2 separate regions of the Homo sapiens genome follow, and region 2 is linked to region 1. Evidence: fine-mapped expression QTL. Tissue or cell type: whole blood. Region 1 holds a variant in brackets; the other region holds the start of a gene. All regions are shown on one strand. Distances are between the middles of the regions. Region 1 overlaps FBRSL1 (fibrosin like 1). Region 2 holds the start of FBRSL1 (fibrosin like 1).

Region 1 (8,000 bases):
CCCTCCAAGCAGGTGAGCAGGTCCCTCCCCGACCGGAAGCTCTGCGGCGGGTCAGTGCTCACCGCCCCAGGGCCATGCCAGCACCTGGACACCACGCCACGTGGCCCCCGGGCCTGCCTGGCAGCGCGCCCATCGTTGTCAGGCTTGGGGTGCAGGACACGTGGACAGGGCTGGGGCCTAGCAGAGGCAGGAGCCGGCTGGGTCACGGAGGGGCCGTGACGTGCCCAGGGCCACAGCAGGAGAGGTGCCTGTCTGGGGCAGCAAGGCGCGCGTTCCGGGCTGGGGCGCCAAGCTGATAGGCCGGCCCCGTTTCCCTGCCGTGTCCATCAGGCTCCGCCGACTACAGGTGTCCAGAGTGTCTATAAGGAGGGGGTCCAGGCTCATTGCCGAGGGCTGTCCTGTCCACACGCAGCGCCATCCGCTCACGTGTGCGGCGTGGGGAAGGGAATACTTGGTCCCGGCAGTGGCTGCAGGCACGTGACTGTGGTCAGTGGTCAGGTGCGTGGCCCAGCTGGGAACAGGGCTCTGCCTGCCCTGCCCAGGGGCCTCCTGCCCAGGAGGGGCTGTCAGAGCAGGTGGGGGCTTCCCCAGCGCGTGGGGCTCTGTCCTGGGTGCAGCTCAGCCTGCAGCTGCTTCCTCCGCGGGGGTCCGCTGGTGTGCGCCTTCCTTCCAGGGTGGGGCTCTGCGCGGTGTCCTCGGCTCTCCTCGGCCCCCTTGGGAATTGGGCTGCTGGAGAAGGGCAGCATGCCTCCTGGGCCCGGGCTGGACGGGGGTTCCGCGGGCGGTGACACCTGCCCAGGTGGACACGTGCTCTTTCTTCCATGCAGGTGTGCTCCCCAGAAGGGGGGCCGCTCCCAGCCAGCCACTGGGACCAGAACGGCCCGGCCCAGCGCCAGCAACAGCTCCAGCCCAGCCAGTCCAGCCAGCCCCAGGGGTCCCTCCCAGCCCCGTCGGCACTCCCGGACCCTGGGCAGCCCTGCCAGCCCTCCCAGCGGCCACTCCTGGGTCAGCGCAGCTGGCCCCAGCGGTCACTTCTGGGCCTGAAACAGCCCTGCCAGCCCCGGCGGTCACTTCTGGGCCCCGGTCAGCCCTGCCGGCCCCAGCGGCTCCTTCCATCCCCAGATCAGCTCTGCCAGCCCCAGCGGTCACGCCCGGCCCAGCCCTGCCGGCCGCATTGGGCACTCCCAGGCCCCAGGCAGTGCTGCAGGCGCCTGCGGTCCCTGCTGACCCCGTGTCACCACTGCCGGCGCCTGCGGTCCCTCCTGGCCCCACGGTCCCTCCTGGTCCCCTGCCTCTACTGCCGGCGCCTGCGGTTCCTCCTGGCCCCAAGGCACCGCTGCAGGCGCCTGCGGTCCCTGCTGACCCTGTGGCACCGCTGCCGACCCCTGCGGCCGTGGGCCAGCCCGTGTCACTGTGGCCAGCCCGGTAGGGCATCCTCAGGACAGCGCAGCCGGCCCCTGTGGTCGCTGCTAGCCCAGTGCCAGCGGTACCAGCCCCCGCGGCCACTCCTCACCCTCCGACCACGCCGACGGCCCGCCAGCTTCCTCCCAGGACAGTGCTGCTGCCCCCGGCGGGCCTTCCTAGCCCCGTGTCAGTACGGCCAGCCCCGAAGGTCCCTGCTGGGCCAGCCCAGCCGCCCCCGGCGGTCGCTGCTGCGCCCCAGGCAGCCCCAGCGGTTAGTGGAAGCCCCAGAGCAGCCCGGCCCACTCACGCCTTCACTCCTGGGCCCGGGACGGCCGAGGCAGCAGAAGCAGCCGCTCATGGGCCCGGAGCAGCCCTGCCCACCCAAGCGGCCGCTCATGGGCCCAGAGCAGCCCTGCCAGCCCCTGCGGCCGCTCATGGGCCCCAACAAGCCCTGCAAACCCCAGCCGTTGCTCCCCATTCCCGATCGCCCTTCACTCCTGGGGCAGCCGGGCCCACCCTGCCGGCCTCTCCTGGGGCTCCTGTGCCAGCCGCGGCGGTCCCTATTGGATCTGGTGCCGGCCCGTCAGCCCCGGCTCTCGCTCCTGGCCCTGGGCCATCCCTGCCGGCCCCTGCGGTCCCGGTGGACCCGATCCTGTGCCCCCGGGATGGCCCGTCAGGCCCCATCTGTGAGCCCTGGAGCCTGATGCCTGCAGGCACCTCCCCATATGGGTTTTCCAGCCCACTCCAGTGTGATCTGCACCCTGGCAGGGCCCCAAGGGCCAAGGCCGCATTGCCCTTCGGGCTGGAGATGCTTTGCCGGACTAGCCTGAGGCCTTGTCTAGACAGGGCTGAGCTGTTTGTCGTTGGAAATTGAGGCTCGGCCAGAGGCGGGAGCCCCTACAGTGCCACGATCAGGCTGAGGCTCACCACACCAGGAAGAGAGATGAACCCGCGTCTGCCTGCCGCCCCGCCATGCTCCCTCTCCCCCCACTGGCGTCACAGTGCCCCCACCCGCGTTGCTGCCTGTGGTGTGCGTGCCCTGGGAGGGGAACACAGCCCCTGAGGGCGGGGACCTTGCTGGGGGCCCCTCAGCGTCTTTCTGTGCCTCTGAATTGCCAATACTGTCCTTGCATCTCTGAGTCTACGTGCACGCTTGCCCCTGGCGTGCCACCTGTGCGGAGCGCGTGAGCCTGGTGTGTGCGTGCTGTGTGTGCATGTGTGCGAGAGGGTGTGAGAGTGAGTGGCGTGCTGGGCATGAAGGATCTGTGGGGTGCTGCAGTTCCTGCAGAGTGGCCCAGTGGCGAATGGTGAAGGTGTGGGTTTCAGTCCAGGCCCTCCCCCTGGTAGTCAGGAGGTGCTGGTGTCCACCTCCAGGGCCCCCAAGCTACAGGGGGCACATGGGCCCATCTGGTGGGTCAGGACCTGCAGGGGACCCGGAGGCTCCCACCCCCACCTCTCAGGACTCTGCCTCCACCACCCCCGTGGGCATGCACTGAAGGGTTGCCTGCAGGGTCTCCAGGCGAGGGGGACCCCACAGGGTGGGCAGCGCCTTCTCCCGGCTTCCCCACAGTCCCCTGCAGCGTCCCGTCTGGCTGTTGACCTACATGTGGTCGGGCACACCTCACACTACAAGGCTACCCCTGGGCCCATCCCTGCCCCTTCCACGGCCCCCACCTGTGGTCAGGTGTTGCCACCCCCTCAGGACCTGGTCTCAAGGCAGCCCCACTCGAGTCTTCTGGAGTCCAAGGCACGCCACTCGCCCAAAAGGGAGGGGGTGTTTGGGGGGGCTTTGACTGTCTCCAGACCTCAGGGGAGCTGGGCAGGCTCTAACCAGTGGTCCTCCAGAGAGCAGCGTTGACCACCTGGACCCCTGCGCCACGTGACAGGAGGCTCTGGTCCTGCAGGCCTGGTCTTGCCCAGCTGGGCTGCCTCAGGTGTCAGGAAGGGGATGGGTGTCCCTGGCTCCCAGGCCAGGCAGCTGCTGACCTCCAGCACCCCGCACTTGCTCATGAGGACCCCACCCCCGCAGGCCCTCCCGGGT[C/T]CTGACCAGCCTCTGGTGCAGCATCTGCTTTGGCCTCCGGGCCCCCTCGCTCCCCACCCACCCGGGCCCCTTCCTCCGGTGCTCACCTGGGGCCTCCATCCCAGAAGCGCAGGGCTTATTTTTCTGATTAAAGAAAATAAAAAGTGCCGTGCCACTATTTTTTATAACAGCATCAGCGTTTGTAATTTAAACAGACGAGCATGTGTCTTACGTGATTTATTCCCACAAAGGGCTTTTGTGCTGGGCTTGGCTCGGGATTCATTGCACTCTGACCGAACAGAGGGGAGACCTGGAGCATCTGTTCCTGACCTTCCTGCCCACCCATCTGAGGCCTGGAATGGGGGTTTGTACTGTGCTCAGCATGGGGGCACCGGCCTCCAGATCCCCCCACCGCAAGGCTACTGTGTGGGCCAGTGTGACAGGGGTCGAGACCCCCCTCTCGGCTCATGCCTGGGGGGCACCCATCCCCGGGATCAGTGTCCTGGGGACTGGTGAGGGAGGGTGGTTCAGCTCAGAGTCCTCTGCATGGCCTGGGCACGCGTGAGGGAGCATGGTTCAGCCCAGCATCCTCTGCACAGCCTGTCAGGTGCTTGTGTTCTGCTCACGGAAGGCCGGGGCATGGAGGGGCCGAGTCCTGGCTGCAGCGCCCTGGCTGAGCTCCAGGCTGGACCTGGCACACTTGGGGTGCGGGCTTGGAGGGCGGTGCCATCTCAGAGTCACCCACACAAGCCATTGCCCCGCAGAGGGGCTGAAGTTGCCTTCAGACGTCCCTGTTGTCAGGCGTGGGGAACAGTGATGATTTAAACAGTCTCCTGCCCTCTTTCCACTTTCAGGCCCCTGCCCCTACCCCCGGGCTCCTGTGAGTACAGAGGGGGCCGAGTGAGTAGAGCCATGTCTGGGGCAGGCCTGAACGGGCTGAGGGAGTGGGGAGGGGCCATCCATGCTGGAGCTGAGCAGTGGCACTTGGCTGCCCCTTAATGGGGAAGGCCAGGCTGCCAGGGAGGGCTGAGGAGAGCTGGAAACTGCAGCCTGGGTCCCTGTGGCCAACAGCTGGGGGTGCAGAGGACACCCGTGGAGGAAACATTCAGGACCCAGAGGGGCTCTCGAGGCCTGGCCATGACCCTGCAGCCTCCAGCTCGAACCCACTGTCTGCACTGGCTTGCGGTCGGGGTGCCGCCATGGGGAGGGCAGAGACACCAGGGCGCTATGGTGCTGGACATCCATGTTGTGTCCTGGGGCCCGCGCCCTGGTGGGGACACTGCTGCCAGGCGTCGCCCTGGGAAATGCAGATTTCGTGTGGCCAGATCTTTGATGTTTCTGAAGAGCTGGGAATCCAGGTTTCTCTGGATTTGGCAATGTTGAAATGTTGGTGGTCAATTCTAATTTTTATGACTCACTTTGCTGACCAGAAGATGCAGCTGTGGGCCTGCGAGGCCTCCGGCAAGTGGGATTTGGCTCCCATCACAGGCAGCAGATTGGAGCCTGAGGCCTGGTTGGAACATGGCTTGTTCCCTTGTTTCTGGAAGGGGTTGGTACTCAGTGGGGCTGCGCCTGCCCAGGAAGATGGGCTTGTGTCCTGGCTGCTGTAGAGGGGGTGGGGGCAGCCCAGCCTGAAGGTTGAGGATGGAGGTGTCTTCCGGGGGGTGACAGTGGGGATCTGGGGGAGGCTGCCCGCTGCCCGACTACAGAGACCCTGTTGCTGCCTCAGGAACCCCTCTGGAGACTGGGGCCTGCGTGCAGTGCTTTAGTGACCATCAGCCCTCTGGTCACCTCTGTGGGGGCCTCTGCCCACCTTGTTGTTGTTGGCACAGGCAGGCTGGTCCCCTCCCATCTGCAGAAGGGGTTATGGGGAGGGCGTGAGCCTTCTGGGAGAGGCCGAGGCGTGTTCCTGCAGAGCCCACGGCAGACGAGGGCAGTGGTTGGTTTGTTGTTGGGGGAGGAGAAGGGGAGGTCGGGGTGGATTCCTGGAAGATGGGTGACACTGAGACTGTGGCGGTGGGGCCAACCCCACGAGGGGCCTGGAGCTCTAAGGCCCTTGGGTCCTCCCCAGGTCAGGCCAAGTCCATGAGCCATCGCTGAGCAGCCCCCAGGGAGGGAGGGGTGTGAGCGTGGGTGGGCTCCCGGCACCTGGCCCAGCATCCACGCCTGGTGTGTGGGCATCTGCCTGCAGACCCTCGTCCGAGGGCCCCGTCTCTCTGGACCCCTCACTGCAGGTGAATAGCCACAGTCCCTCCCCCAGGCCCTGCCCTGCGTGTTGGAAACACCACCTCCTGGGCCTTCCCCGTTTGCTCATTCGGGATCCTTGTCTGGGCACTGAGGACGATGAGCTCCGCCTCTGTTCTCGCGTCAGGGCTCGGCTCCTCCGTGTGTGGGGAGACAGGCTGGGATAGCATGCTGGGCGACTGTGGTGAGGGCAAAGACACAGAGGGCATGAGTGGGGGGCTGGGGGGGCACCTGGATGTTCAGAGGCCAGAAGGCAGGACTACCCGCAGGTGCCCAAGGGAGACCCAGGGCCGCCCAGAAGTCCAGGGGGAGTCCTGGGGCCTCGGAGGGATCTGAGCAGGGCTGCGGCCTGACCCAGGATCTCTCTGGCCTCCCTGGCGTCTTCCCAGGTGGCCCAGGACCGCAGTACCAGACTGAGCTGGACTGGCATTGACCAGGCCGAGGCCACCGGCCATCCTCCTCCGGCCAGAAGCTGCAGTGATAGGGGACATCCCTAGCAGTTCACAAAGCTGTGGGGAGACCCCGAGGGGGAAGGGTTTCCATGCTGAGCCACAGGCCCGGCCACGGTGCAAAGCTGTGGGGGGACTCCGAGGAAGAAGGGTTTTCATGCTGAGCCACAGTCCCGGCCATGGTGCAGGGATTTGGCACGAAGCCTCTCCTAGGGCCGGTACACGACCTAGAGGGCTCCCTGGTGTACCCTGGGACCTGGCAGAGTGCAGCTTCTCATCCAGCAGGGGTGGGTAGGGCCCTGGACTCTCCTAGGGCAGCACTGTTTAATAGGAGTGTTATGTGAGCCACATATAGAGTTAAGAAGAAATAAGTAAAATTCATTTTAATGAAGTATTGCGTTTCACTCCATGTACTTTGAAAATAGTATTTCAACAATGTAATCTATATAAAAATTGTCACATCTTTTTTACTCTTTTTTTTGTAGAGTCTGGGAAAGCCAGCAGGTGTTTTACATTTACAACACTTGAGTTTAGACTGGCAGCTTCTGCGCCCAATAACCACAAGGCTGACAGCAGGGAGGTGTGGGGGGTCCAGAACAATATACCCTCTGTGAGTGCTTATCTCATGCCCATGCTGTTCCCAGGCGCCTGCTGTCTGTCTCCTCATCCTCTACCTCATCGGCTCTATGGTTTGAGGCCAGACCTCATGCATCAGGCCAGAGTGTCCTGCCGAGACCCAGGATGCACCCCTCACTTGGCACAGACAAACCAGACACACCAGCTTCTGTCTTTCCCCATTTCAGTGGGTGAACCTGGAACCACCCAGATGACTGGGCTAGAAGTTGACAGTCATTCTCCTCTCCTCACTCCCCTGTCCTCCCACCCAGCACACCCAGCCAGGCAGGTCCTTAGCTTCCACCTCCTGAATCTCTGACCTGAATTTCACTAGAAAATAAGGAATACTACGTCAAAATTTATGGGATGCAGCTAAAGCAATCCTTAAAGGAAAACTAGCTTGTGCTTATATGGGAAAAGAAGAAAGGTCTAGAATCTTAAGGTTTTACCTTAAGAAACCAAAAAAAAAAAAAAATGGAAGGTTTGTAAACCTATAAAGGAAAGCCATAGTATAGACAAGAACAGAAATACAGAAATTAATGAGGCAGGCCAGGTGCGGTGGCTCACGCCTGTAATCCCAGCACTTTGGGACCCCAAGGAGGGTGGATCACTTGAGGTCAGGAGTTCAAGACCAGCCTGGCCAACATGGTGAAACCCGTCTCTACTAAAAATACAAAAAATTAGCCAGGCACGGTGGCGCACACCTGTAGTCCCAGCTGCTTGGGAGGCTGAGGCATGCCAATCACTTGAACCCAGGAGGTGGAGGTTGCAGTGAGCTGAGATCACGCCACTGCACTCCAGCCTGGGCAACAGAGTGAGACTCCGTCTCAAAAAAAAAAAAAAAAAAAAAATTAATAAGGTAGGAAACAGACAATAGAGGAAATGAACAATGCCAAAAGGTGTTTTCAAAGTTGAGAAATCCCTAGCTAGATCAATCAGAAAAAGAAAACACAAATTATGAATATTAGGAACAAAAGGGGAAATATCATTACAGGCACTATAGACACGAAAAAGGTGAAATGGGGACAATTTTATTCCAACAAATTCAACAGCTTAGGTGAAGTGGGCAAATTACTTGGAAAACAAAACTGACACAAGATGAAATAGATAATCCGAATAGTCTTTTTTTTTTTTTTTTGAGATGGAGTCTTGCTCTATCACCCAGGCTGGAGTGCAGTGGCACAATGTTGCGCAAGCTCTGCCTCCCGGGTTCAAGCAGTTCTCCTGCCTCAGCTTCCTGAGTAGCTGGGATCACAGGCAAGTGCCAC
Region 2 (10,723 bases), 23 kb before region 1:
CCAGCCCTGCCTGAAGCCAGGGCGTGTCGGGAACCCCAGCGGGTACGGGGTGCTGCCTGAATCCAGCCCTGCCTGAAGCCGGGGCCTGTCAGGAACCCCACGGGGTACGGGGTGCTGCCTGAATCCAGCCCTGCCTGAAGCCGGAGCCTGTCGGGAACCCCACGGGGTGTGGGCTGCTGCCTGAATCCAGCCCTGCCTGAAGCCGGGGCCTGTCGGGAACCCCACAGGTACGGGCTGCTTTGGGTTTGCATTTCTGCCACTTTCAAGGGAAAGAGCCCAAGCTAATCCCGGCTGCTTGTCCCTGGCCTCTCCTCCTTCCCACAGCCTGACCCCACACCAGGCTGGGCACCCCACTGCAAGGGGCAGACTCGGGGGCCAGGGCCTGGCACAAGGACCCTCCTCCCAACCTGCAACGTCCCTTTCTGGTGTGAGCACCTGTGCAAGCTTGTGCACTCTCACACTGCACACGGAGCATGGCCAGCTGAAACACTCTCCAAGGAGAGCCAGGGAGTGGCTGCCAGGAGAGAAAGGTAAGTGTGGTAACGGGGAGAGCCAGGCGCATGGGAGCTCACGGACATCATGACGGTGACATAGCGTCCTGAGGAACTGACTGGGAGACTCCAGTGCTCCTGACACAGACTGGGAGGGGCAGTGGCAGGAGGTGGCTGGAGCCCACGGTGCTGCAGGCCTGGAACGGCCCAAGCCCGCTGAGGTGCGGGGACAGGGGGTCTGCAGCAGTCACACGACGGCAGGAGTGTAACCTGGCTGCTCCGTGTGGCTCCCTCTGCCTTCTGCATTCCACTCCTGCTTTCCAACATGCCTGCTGGTTTTCTGTGGTCAGCCCTAACCCAGAGCCATCTGGCGATGAAAATTCTAAGAAATTCTCTGCTGCTCAGCAGGGCCCACCTCACGCAAAGCCACCATCAGCCTCAGGAAGGAGTGGCATTGGGTTAGGGCTTGGGGGAGAGGGAGGGTCCAGGGGAAAGGACGGCAGGTCTCAAGCCCCTGCGGAGGGAACACGCCTGCTCCCCTGGGTGAACAGGGAGGGGGCGGCCCGCAGAGCTGCAGCAGGCTCGGAACCAGGCAACAGCACATCCTCAGGAGCAGGATGACTGGAAGGGGGCACGTTGAGGACTCCAAACACTCAATTGCCTTGACATGTGGCTCAAGGCACATTCTAACTGCAATGCCAGGAAGAGGCCACCTGACTGGTGTCACCTGGGTCACCTGCATGACAAACTGAGCCATCACACCCCACCAGAGCAGAAAGCACGACTTCTCTGCCCCGTGGAGGCTGGTCCTAGCCTTGAAACTTCCTTGACAGACACAACATGAGGCTTCAAGCACGGGCTTCTCCTAGGTTTATATGGCTCTGCTCAGCCTCCTGAGCCACTGAGGGAGAATGAACGCCTGCATCCCACAGAAAGAGGCCAGTGGATTATAGCTGGGCCTAACCAAAGTCCAAATGAAGAAGCAAAGCCCCTCTTGTCACCCTGCAACCCTGTGAGCAAGGCATTGTCACTGAGGGCCCAGGGGCTGTTTGTTACACAGCGTTCTCCAAGCAAGAGCTGACTGACGTTCCTTTGTTCCTTTTCTAGGGGAGCATGGGGCCTTAGGACCTGCTGTGTCACCAGACGGCACCCACAAGAGCAGACTATGCATCCAAAATACACTGAGGTGCCATTACGGGAAGGAAGAGGGGTGCATGCGGAGGGCTGGAGCTGACAGCCGGCTCACAGATGGGGCTGGGGGCTGCAAGAAATGGAACATACTTTCTACTTTTTGGCTGTCACCCCACAGGCAAGTTTGAAACCCAAAGGGCAAATGGCTTAGCTGATTTATAGAGCCTAATTTGGATCCGTTGCCCCAAATTGAATTTTGAATACAATTTCACATCAATTAACTTTGCACAGAGCCTTACAGATGGCAGGGAAGGACTCTCTAAAGCAAAGGCCAGTGGCTACGATGGAGGAGCTGATGTGCCATCCCGGAGCCCACCGATGCTCATAGCACCACTCAGGGCTCTGACCCGGGCGGGTTGGAAGGATGAGAGCTAAGGGGTGTGACGTGAGCAGGAAAGGGACCCGGGCTGGTTGGAAGGATGAGAGCTAAGGGGTGTGGCGTGAGCAGGAAAGGGACCTGGGCTGGTGGTGGGGCCAGAGAGCTGAGCCCTAGGGGCTGGGAAGGAGTTGTGGGCAGGAGCTGTGGGCCTCCAGCAGAGTGGAGAGAAAAGGGGTTTTGCTGGCAAGAGCTGGGGAAGAGGGTGGGGAGGGGCTGGAGGGCTTGATGAGCACCCACCTACGGCCCTGATTGTACCAGGGCCCTGACTGTGGTGCATTCAAACCCATGGTTCCCAGAGTGTGGTCCCCGACCAGCCCCAGAGAACCTCAGACGTGAGGGGTGGGGAACCCTGGGGTGGGCTCAGCTGTGTGTGCTCACACCTCCCTCCCGTCGTGGGTCTGAGGCCTCCATTGACTCACACACCGATTCACACACACCCAGGGGCTTTCACACCCCCGACGGCGGGACGCCTCATCGCCACGCCACCCCCACTTTATAGACGGGACGATGGAAGCACGTTAAATCATTTGCCCAAAATATTCTAAGTGGGTGGCACAGCTGAGGCTGGGGCCCAGGCGAGCCGGTCTAGAACTTCCCTGTCCAGCATGGTAGCCACCAGCCCCACAGGCTATTATATTTTAGATTAAAGTCTGTAAGTAAAATGTATAATCCAGTTCTTCAGCTGCACTTGCCACACTGCAGAGGCTTGAGCCACTCGTGGCTGGCGGCCACCGTCCGGACAACCCAGCCATTCCCTCCACTTCCGAGCTCTGCAGGCCACTGGCCTGGAGGTCTCCTAACCGCTGCAGTCTCTACCTTCCAAAGCACCCCATCCTGCCCGGGGCAAGAGAGGGCAGATGTGTGAGCACACAAACTGAAAAACCAAACAAGCACAGGAGGTCCAACCTGCACCACACCAAGAAGTCAGTGGGAGTGTGGGGGGTGGGGTTCGTGCTGCAAGCTCTGCCCAGGGCCCTGGCAAGCCCCAGGGAGGTTCGGAGTCCTGGGTGGGATGTCCGGTCACTGTGATGCGTGCTCCCGGAGACACACAGCCCGGTCCGCAAGCAGGCAAGTACGCATCTGTCAGAAACCACCCCCAGAACCACCCCCAGAACCACCATCCCTCCCAAGGGCTTCCCATCCAGCACGTAGCCCAGCTGCTTTCTTCTGTAAGAGAAGGTTCCCAAAGCAAGCCCTCCCTGGGGAGCACCTGAGCCCAGAACTCCAGAGACGGCGGCTGGTCCCTGGGGAGCACCTGAGCCCAGAACTCCAGCATCGGCGGCTGGTCCCTGGGGAGCACTTGAGCCCAGAACTCCAGAGATGGCGGCTGGTCCCTGGTTGGCCATCTGGACACCTGGAAATGGATCAAAGGAGAGAAGGCACCTGGGGACGCCTTCCCCAGGACAGCCAGGGAAACCCGGGGGGGAGCCCAAAAAGGAAGCCCCTGAGGAGGTCTACAGAGCCCCTGCCCTTCACTGGGGTCACACATCTGAACATCTTCGGAGATCAGATAAACAAACAGTGTATGTCTATAATCAGAAACTTCAGGCTGGGCACAGTGGTTCACGCCTGTAATCCCAGCACTTTGGAAAGCTGAGGCGGGTAGATCACCTGAGGTCAGGAGTTCGAGACTAGCTTGGCCAACATGGCGAAACCCCATCTCTACTAAAAATACAAAACATTAGTCAGACATGGTGGCATAGGCCTGTAGTCCTGGGTACTCGGGAGGCTGAGACAAGAGAATGGCTTGAACCCGGGAGACGGAGGCTGCAGTGAGCCAAGATCACGCCACTGCACTCCAGTCTGGGTGACAAAGTGAGATCTGTCTCAAAAAAAAAAAAAGAAAAAGAAAAAGAGAAAGAAACTTCAAATCCAAAACCTCAGACCTTCCCAAGCAATTCTTCTGGGGGGGAGGGGGTGCCCACAGGATGCCCCTTGCAGTCTGACTGACCTCTGGGCCCAGCCTAGGGTGGGATGGCCTCTGGGAGCCTCGGGGAACAGGTGAGGACTCCCAGGCTACTTGGGAAGAGGCCTGTATTTAAACAAGAGCCTCAAATGCCACCTGGGTGACCCTCGCCCACATTTCCTGGCCTTCTGTCCAGGGAGGGGAATTCGGGAGCAGGCGTGCATGGAGAAACTACTCGGGGTCCGTTTCTGTCTTCCTAATGAGGCTTTTAAAAATCAAAAGGGAGGATGCTGGAGGGTGAAACCACGGTTTAACAAAACCCGGAATGGGAAGAGGGGGAGGGGGACCCTGCCCCCACCCTGGGGAGGCTTTGACAGGGAACCAGAGAGCGGGCTGGGTGGACTGGAGGAGGCTGGGTGAACAGGAAGTCCCCCCACCCCAGTGAGCTACTTTCCCAACTGCCTCAGCCCAGCAAACAGCCAGTGGTGCCTGGACCACACCCTTCCTGCCCTGCACAAGAGGCCGCCAGTAGGCTCTCCCAGAGGCAGGGTAAAGTGGACCCCGCAGAGTGGGCGAGGACCCGTTCCCACTAAGGGCAACCGAGGGCAGGGTCCCACCACTGTCTTGGGCACCCTCCCCTCCGCCCTCCAGCAAACCACCATTCTTCTCCGAGGGCCTGTGCAGGGGTGTAGCCCCGACCTGAAACAGGGTGCCCATGACTGCTGGGGCTCGGAGTCGTCACTCCTCGGGGAGGCCCTCTGGACCACCCAATGCCCACTCTCTGTGACACCTCCCCGTTCGATTTTCTTCAGATTATCCTTGGCTGATATTCTATTTGGCCCTGTGTTCAGGGTCTCTCTCCCACTTCTAAGAGGGTAGTCTATCTCAGCCGCTGCGGGGTCACCAACAGAGCCTGGACACAGGAGGCATCTGGCAAATACGCGCTGCATGAATCAATGACTCCAGTGCCCACGCGCAAGGGGCCCCTGGGCTCAGAAAACCCCACCAGGCGGGCCCCTCCGAGCTCGGCCTGTCCTGGGGGTGGAGGAGGAAGTTCGCCCCGCGCCTGCCTCGCAACCGCAGCCGCCTCCGTGCGCTTCCTGCCCGCGCCGCCCTCCACACTGCGCTCCGTGTCTGGCAGCAGCCCCCGCCTCGCTGGGCGCGTTCCCGGGGGTCTCGGTGGCGGGAGCCGCCTTCTTGTGGGACTTGGGGGCACGTGGCGCGGGGCGGGGACGCGGACAGACCCCTCCCGCATCCTAGGAGGCCTGGGAGGGTCCGCGGGGACGCGGGGAGGGGGCACCGCCTGGCCGAGGACCCTCCCCCGGTCCTCCCCGCCCCTTCCCCGTCCCTTCCACGCTCGCCGAGGGCAGGACTTCGGTTCCGCGAGACCGGAGGCCCCTCGTCCTCCTCGGAAGCCGCCCGCGGCCGGGGACCCCAGTCCCGCAGAGGAGGGCGGCGCTGCCCCCGCCTCCCGCTTGGAGAGCGCCGCCCGCAGGTGCCCACGGAGGGGCCGCGGCATCCCAGCGCCCTCCCAGGAAGGAGCCGAGCGGATCACCGCCGGCTGCAGCGGAGGTCGGGGCGCCGGGGAGGGGCGCGGCTAGGGGGCGAGGTCGAAGGGCGGGCACCTGCGGGTGGGGCGGGGCCTGAATTAGCGGGAGCGCCCGGGAGGGGCGGGGCCGGGGCCTGCGTGAGCGGGTCGGGGAGGGGGCGGAGCCTGCGGGGGGCGGGGCCTGCGTGAATGGGGCGGGGAGGGGCCGGAGCCTTGTGAGCGGGGCGGGCCGCGTGTGCGGGGTGGGGGCGGAGCCTTATGAGCGGGGCGGGGCAGGGGCGTGGTCGGGGCGGGGCGCGCGGGCGCCCGCGGCGGCCCTCACTTCCTCTGGCGAGCGCAGCCGGGCGGAAGTGCGTCAGTTGTTATCTGTTCGGGGCGCCGCCGCCGCCTCACGAGCCCGGTGCCCAGGAGCCCGGCCGCCTCCCGCCTGCCGCCTGCCGCGCCCGCCCGGCCCCGCCCGCTCGGCCCGATCGCCGCGCCGCGCGCATGGGGCGCGCCCCCGGGGGGGCGGCCGAGGGCCGCTGAGCGCCGGGCCCGCCCCCGCCGATGCGCCCAGCCGCCCGCGCCGGGGGTCCCAGGCCGCGCCGGGCCCGGGGCTGAGCCGCCCCCCGCGCCCGGCATGCCCGGCCCGGCCCGCCGCCCGCCGCCGCCCAGGGCCCGAGCCCGCGCGGCGCACACTCAGCCCGGCGGCGCCGCGTAGCCGAGGGAGCCCGCCTGCTGCGAGCCAGGCGCGGGGCGTCAAGGTCACCGGCCCGACGGGGCGCACGCGCGGCCATGGAGGCCAAGGTCCGCCCGAGCCGGCGCTCGCGCGCGCAGCGGGACCGTGGCCGGCGCCGGGAGGCCGCCCGCGACGCCCGCGCCCAGAGTCCGTCGTCGGGCGACGAGCCCGAGCCCAGCCCCGGCAAGGAGAACGCGGGCCTCCGCGGCGCGCCCCCCCGAGGCGCCGCCCCCGCGCCCCGCACCGCGCGTCCCCCGCGCCGCCGCCGCCGCGAGTCCAGCTCGCAGGAGGAGGAGGTCATCGACGGCTTCGCCATCGCCAGCTTCAGCACCCTGGAGGCCCTGGAGGTAGGTGGACGGGTGCGGCTTCGCAGGCGTTGAGGCGAGAACGGGGCCCGGAGTTGACGCGTCGGGCGATCCCGGGACCCCTGGGCTTGCGACCGCCCGCGCCGTGGGCAGCCCTGAGGGAAGCCCCGGCCACTTGGTACCCGTTCCAGGGACCCTGGGTGCCCACCGCTCGCCCAGACCGTCGCATCTGGAAGACCCAGCAGCGTCGGGTGGGTTTGGGGACGTTTTAAGTTGCAGAGGCAAAAAAATCTACGCTTCGAAATTGGGGGCTGTCTGACAGCACCGTCGGCCTTTTATCAGTTGTGTTTCTGTGGCCAGCATATCGCTCTGCCTGGTTCAGGACGTGCTAGGGAGCAGTGCTGGATCTTAGGGAGGTGGTGATAAAATGGATACTCCGCGGGCCATCCCGTTCCCTCCTCCCTTCGAGGGCTCTGCTGAGAAGGGGAGAAGGAGGGTTAATCTCAAGACCCCTCTTGGTGACTGCTGCCTGCTGCATGGTTAATAGATTGGCCAAAAATATTGCTTGTCTGGCTGACGGACAGTATTTGCTGAGCAAATACTGCTCCTCTTACATGAACTCAGCTGAGCAGAGAAGGAAATTAAATGCTGTCTGAGAGTTGGGGCAGGCGCTGTCTCCCCAGGACTGGCATGGGCAGGAATGCTAGCAAGTTGCCCTGCACCAGGGCCGAGACCCGCCCAGCGAGGTGTGCCCCGTGCAGCACTTACTTTGGGGGACCCTCATCTGCTGGACTTTGACTCCCAGAATCACCCCATTTCCAACCCCTCTCACTTTTCCAGGGGCTTGGGAGCCCATGGCCTGGGATCCCCCAGTCTCAGAAGCTGAGCTTTGGGAAAAGGGGAGATGCCTACTGCAGGCCCCTGAAGCAGCAAGTCCTCTTCAAGTTCTCATCCAAACTCTGGGGACTGTAGAGAGCCTTGGGTCAGGGCCGGTGGCCAGGGAAGTGGCCCCAGAACAGGTGCCGCATCGTGTCCCGAGTGCACAGTCAGAGCTGGGGCTTCGTGTCCCAAGTGCACGGACAGAGCTGGGGCTCCTGTGGGCCCAGGACGGGGTGGGTGGTGGCCAGGCTCATCACACAGGCTGGCCATCCTCTGTCCTGCACATTATTAGATGGCTCCAGGGCTGGCACACGCCATTGCTCTGTGCTGGGACGGGATGGCCCTGGGGCTGTCTTCTGCCCTCTCAGTGGTGATAATGACACAGACTGTACGTGTACTGAGCAATACTGCAAGCCAGGCCCTGCGCTCGGCTCCTGCACTGCAGCTGAGACCACGAGGATGCCCACTTTCCAGAGCTGTCGCCACCCACCTGCACCTCCTGGGTCCCTAACCGCGGCTTCCTCACTGCTCCGAGCGGGTCAGCCCTTGTACCCTGCCGTTCTCTGTCTGCTTTATGTTTGGTGCCATTGTGTCTTTGCAAAAACGTCACCTCAGACTCCTCTGAAGTGGTGCCCCCCACCCCCGTCGACGTTGCCCACCTTCTTTTTGTCATCCCCACTCTGCAAAGCTGTTTTAGAATGTCTTTGCTCTCCATTTTCGTCTCCCACAAGAACTTGTAAGCTGAAAGAGAGCAGACACTGTGCTGTCCTGTGTGTCTCCTATGGGGTCTGGTGCCGGGAAGAGCTCGATGTGTAGAAAGTGCCCCAGATGCGTGTGTCAGGAATCTGAGTGAGGAGATGAACTGTACTCAGGAGATCCAGGGCCAATCCCAGGCCCACGTGTTTTGCCCGCAGCGGCTCTGACTGGCTGTCCACCTGCTCTGGCAGGGTCACGTGCCCCCAGCCTGCAGGCAGTGGGTTCAGTGGGTTTTGGTGACTTCGGCTTAGACCAGCTGGCCCCTCAGGTCATAGTGAGACAAGTCTGCTGCTGCGTGGCGTTAACACAGCCACAGCACCCCAGGGTGGTTTCATGTCCCTTCCTCTGCCCTTCGGAGCCTGCCTGGGAAAGTACGGGGCTTCTGCACAAGTCATAACCTCGTGATCATCCCATACGTGTCTCTTGGTTGTCTACATTTTTTGCCAAAGTATGGTGGTTTTTCCCCAAAGTTCAGATAATTCATAATTATATCAATAGTAGTGACTGGTTCAGTAAGCATTCTCTCCATCAGGCAGTGTTCTGAGCTGCCTTTCACAGACATCAACTCATTTACTCCTCAAATGACCCACGAGGAGGGCTGGATGCCCCCATTCCACAGATGGGGACCTTGAGGCTCCCCATTGAGGCAGAGCAAGAGCAAGGAGCACTGGGTGCCACGCCTGTCCGGCCTTAGAGTGAGCGGGCGCTGCCCTGCGAGGCCACCCACACGGGACACCGAGGGAGATGTGGCCACCAGGACCCAGCCCAGAGGCACAGCCTGCCCTTGGCTCTGCCGCCTTTGCTCACAGTCCCTCTGCCCCCACCCGCGTCTTGAGGGCTCTTCCTACTCTGGGATGCTGGAGGATGGGACGCTCAGGAGTTGGAGGAAGCCCTTGTAACCCCAGAGGCTGGCTTGTGCCCGCGGGACACTGCAGTGGTATAAACAACCAAACACAGGTGTAGACTTGCCGGGGAGGTGCAGCCTGCCTGCAGGAGTCCTGTTACCTCACCCCAGACCCCACACACACTGGGACCAACTCTCGGCCCCAGCCCTGGCCCCTGGGGCAGACCCCCACTCGCAGCCCCTTCTGACCCCAGGCAGACCACCCTCTCCGCCTGTCTGAACAGGCACCCCTTGCCCTGTGCCCGGGGCAGGTCTCTGTACCTGTTTTGTGCCCCCGGCAGGTCCCTGCCCCTTTTCTGTGCCCTGGATGGGACACACAGGCTGTTCTGTGCCCGGGGCAGGCCCCCGCCCCCTTTGTGTACCCTGGGTGGGACACATAGGCCGTTCTGTGCCCGGGGCAGGCCCCCAGCATCTGCACATTTATATGTGCTCCTGTAGGGGAGGAGGAGTCCCCGCTTGTCCTGGGCCTGTGTGTGCTGTGAACACAGCAGGCACTCCCTAAATGGTGGTGGTGGTGGTTGTGGGCTGAGGAGGGCCAGGGTCTGGCCTGGCTCAGGGTGTGCCTGCAGCCCTGGAGACAGCATTAATGATTAACTGCCCATAGAGATGGGAGCCCTGTGGCAGGGCTGAGGACCTGCAGAGGGGCGTGCTGGGCTGGGTGTGCTGGGGTGGGTGGGGCGGCGCGGCAGACCTGAGCCAGCCCCCGCTTGACTTTCTACTCTGTAACCAGGGGCCGTGGTATGTGGGGACAGGAGGCCTGAGGAAGCCCCGCTGGCCTCTCCCCTGCTCTTGTTCTGACCGGGAACTCTGGGTGCTTGGGAACGTGGCTCTTGCTGTCCCTTTTGTTTCCTGTGACAACTCTGTCCCCTGGTTGTACTGACCAGAGGACACTGGAAGCCCCCTACCCCTGGAGCAGTGCTGTGGCCATACGTGCCTGGTCAGTGCTGCTGTTCTCTGCCTGGGGTCCTCCCAAGAAGACTGGGGTCTGAGAGGTGTATCCAGGGCTGTGTCAGACCCCATCTTCCCACATAGCAAAGGCCATCCTTATCTGGCCTCAGGCCACAGAACAGGTTGTGCCGGTCCCTGTGTCTCCTGGGAGATAGGCCAGGCCTGCTTAGCCCAGTGGGCTGCACCGCCCACTCCCACATGCTGGCCGCTCGGCCCCAGTGACGCTGGCCATGGTGCTCTGGGCTGCGCCTGGGCCACAGGGAGGTGGCAGGGTGCCCAGGAGCACATTGGCCACTAGCTCCAGGCGGACACCACCATTCTGGTTTGGTGTCTGTGATTTTTGGTTAATTTGCATTTTTCAAACAGCAAATCACTTTCACCTGGTGACTTTCACTTGGTCCACACGTCAAGCTCCATAAGAAGGTGCGTGCTGAAGCTTGAGCTGTTCCCTGACTGGCACACGGGCCACGCAGAAGGTCCACGTGTGTCCCAGGAATAAAGGCGGAAGGAAAGCACCCAGCCTCCTGGCTCGGTGGCCAGCGGTCTCCTCTAACGCCTGTGCTTCCACATTCTCTGCTCAGCATAAACCACAGGACATGCACCCAAAATGCTGCTGAACCTGCACAGACGGTTGTGCTTAAGAAACCCCAGGCTACTGATCGTGTGCGGCCCCCGGCCTCCCAGGGCTGTCTGTGGG

The links. PIP is the estimated chance that this variant, and not a neighbour inherited with it, causes the effect.
Region 2: FBRSL1 starts here. The variant in region 1 is fine-mapped to the expression of FBRSL1 in whole blood (GTEx, PIP 0.98). The same link has a PIP of 0.9 or more in CD4 T cells.

The regions. Positions count from the first base shown.
Region 1 is chr12:132,508,339-132,516,338 of GRCh38, forward strand. It overlaps FBRSL1 (fibrosin like 1), which reads left to right. Exons shown (of 19, transcript NM_001367871.1): 2 at 1-12. Among named protein-coding and RNA genes, the nearest start is that of FBRSL1, 22 kb to the left of the region's middle. The variant C/T (reference allele first, on the strand shown) is at 3,446.
Region 2 is chr12:132,484,281-132,495,003 of GRCh38, forward strand. FBRSL1 (fibrosin like 1) reads left to right here and starts at 5,871. Exons shown (of 19, transcript NM_001367871.1): 1 at 5,871-6,581. The coding sequence starts at 6,291. RefSeq lists enhancers at 4,832-4,961, 6,959-7,522, 8,236-8,305 and silencers at 5,152-5,221, 5,352-5,801.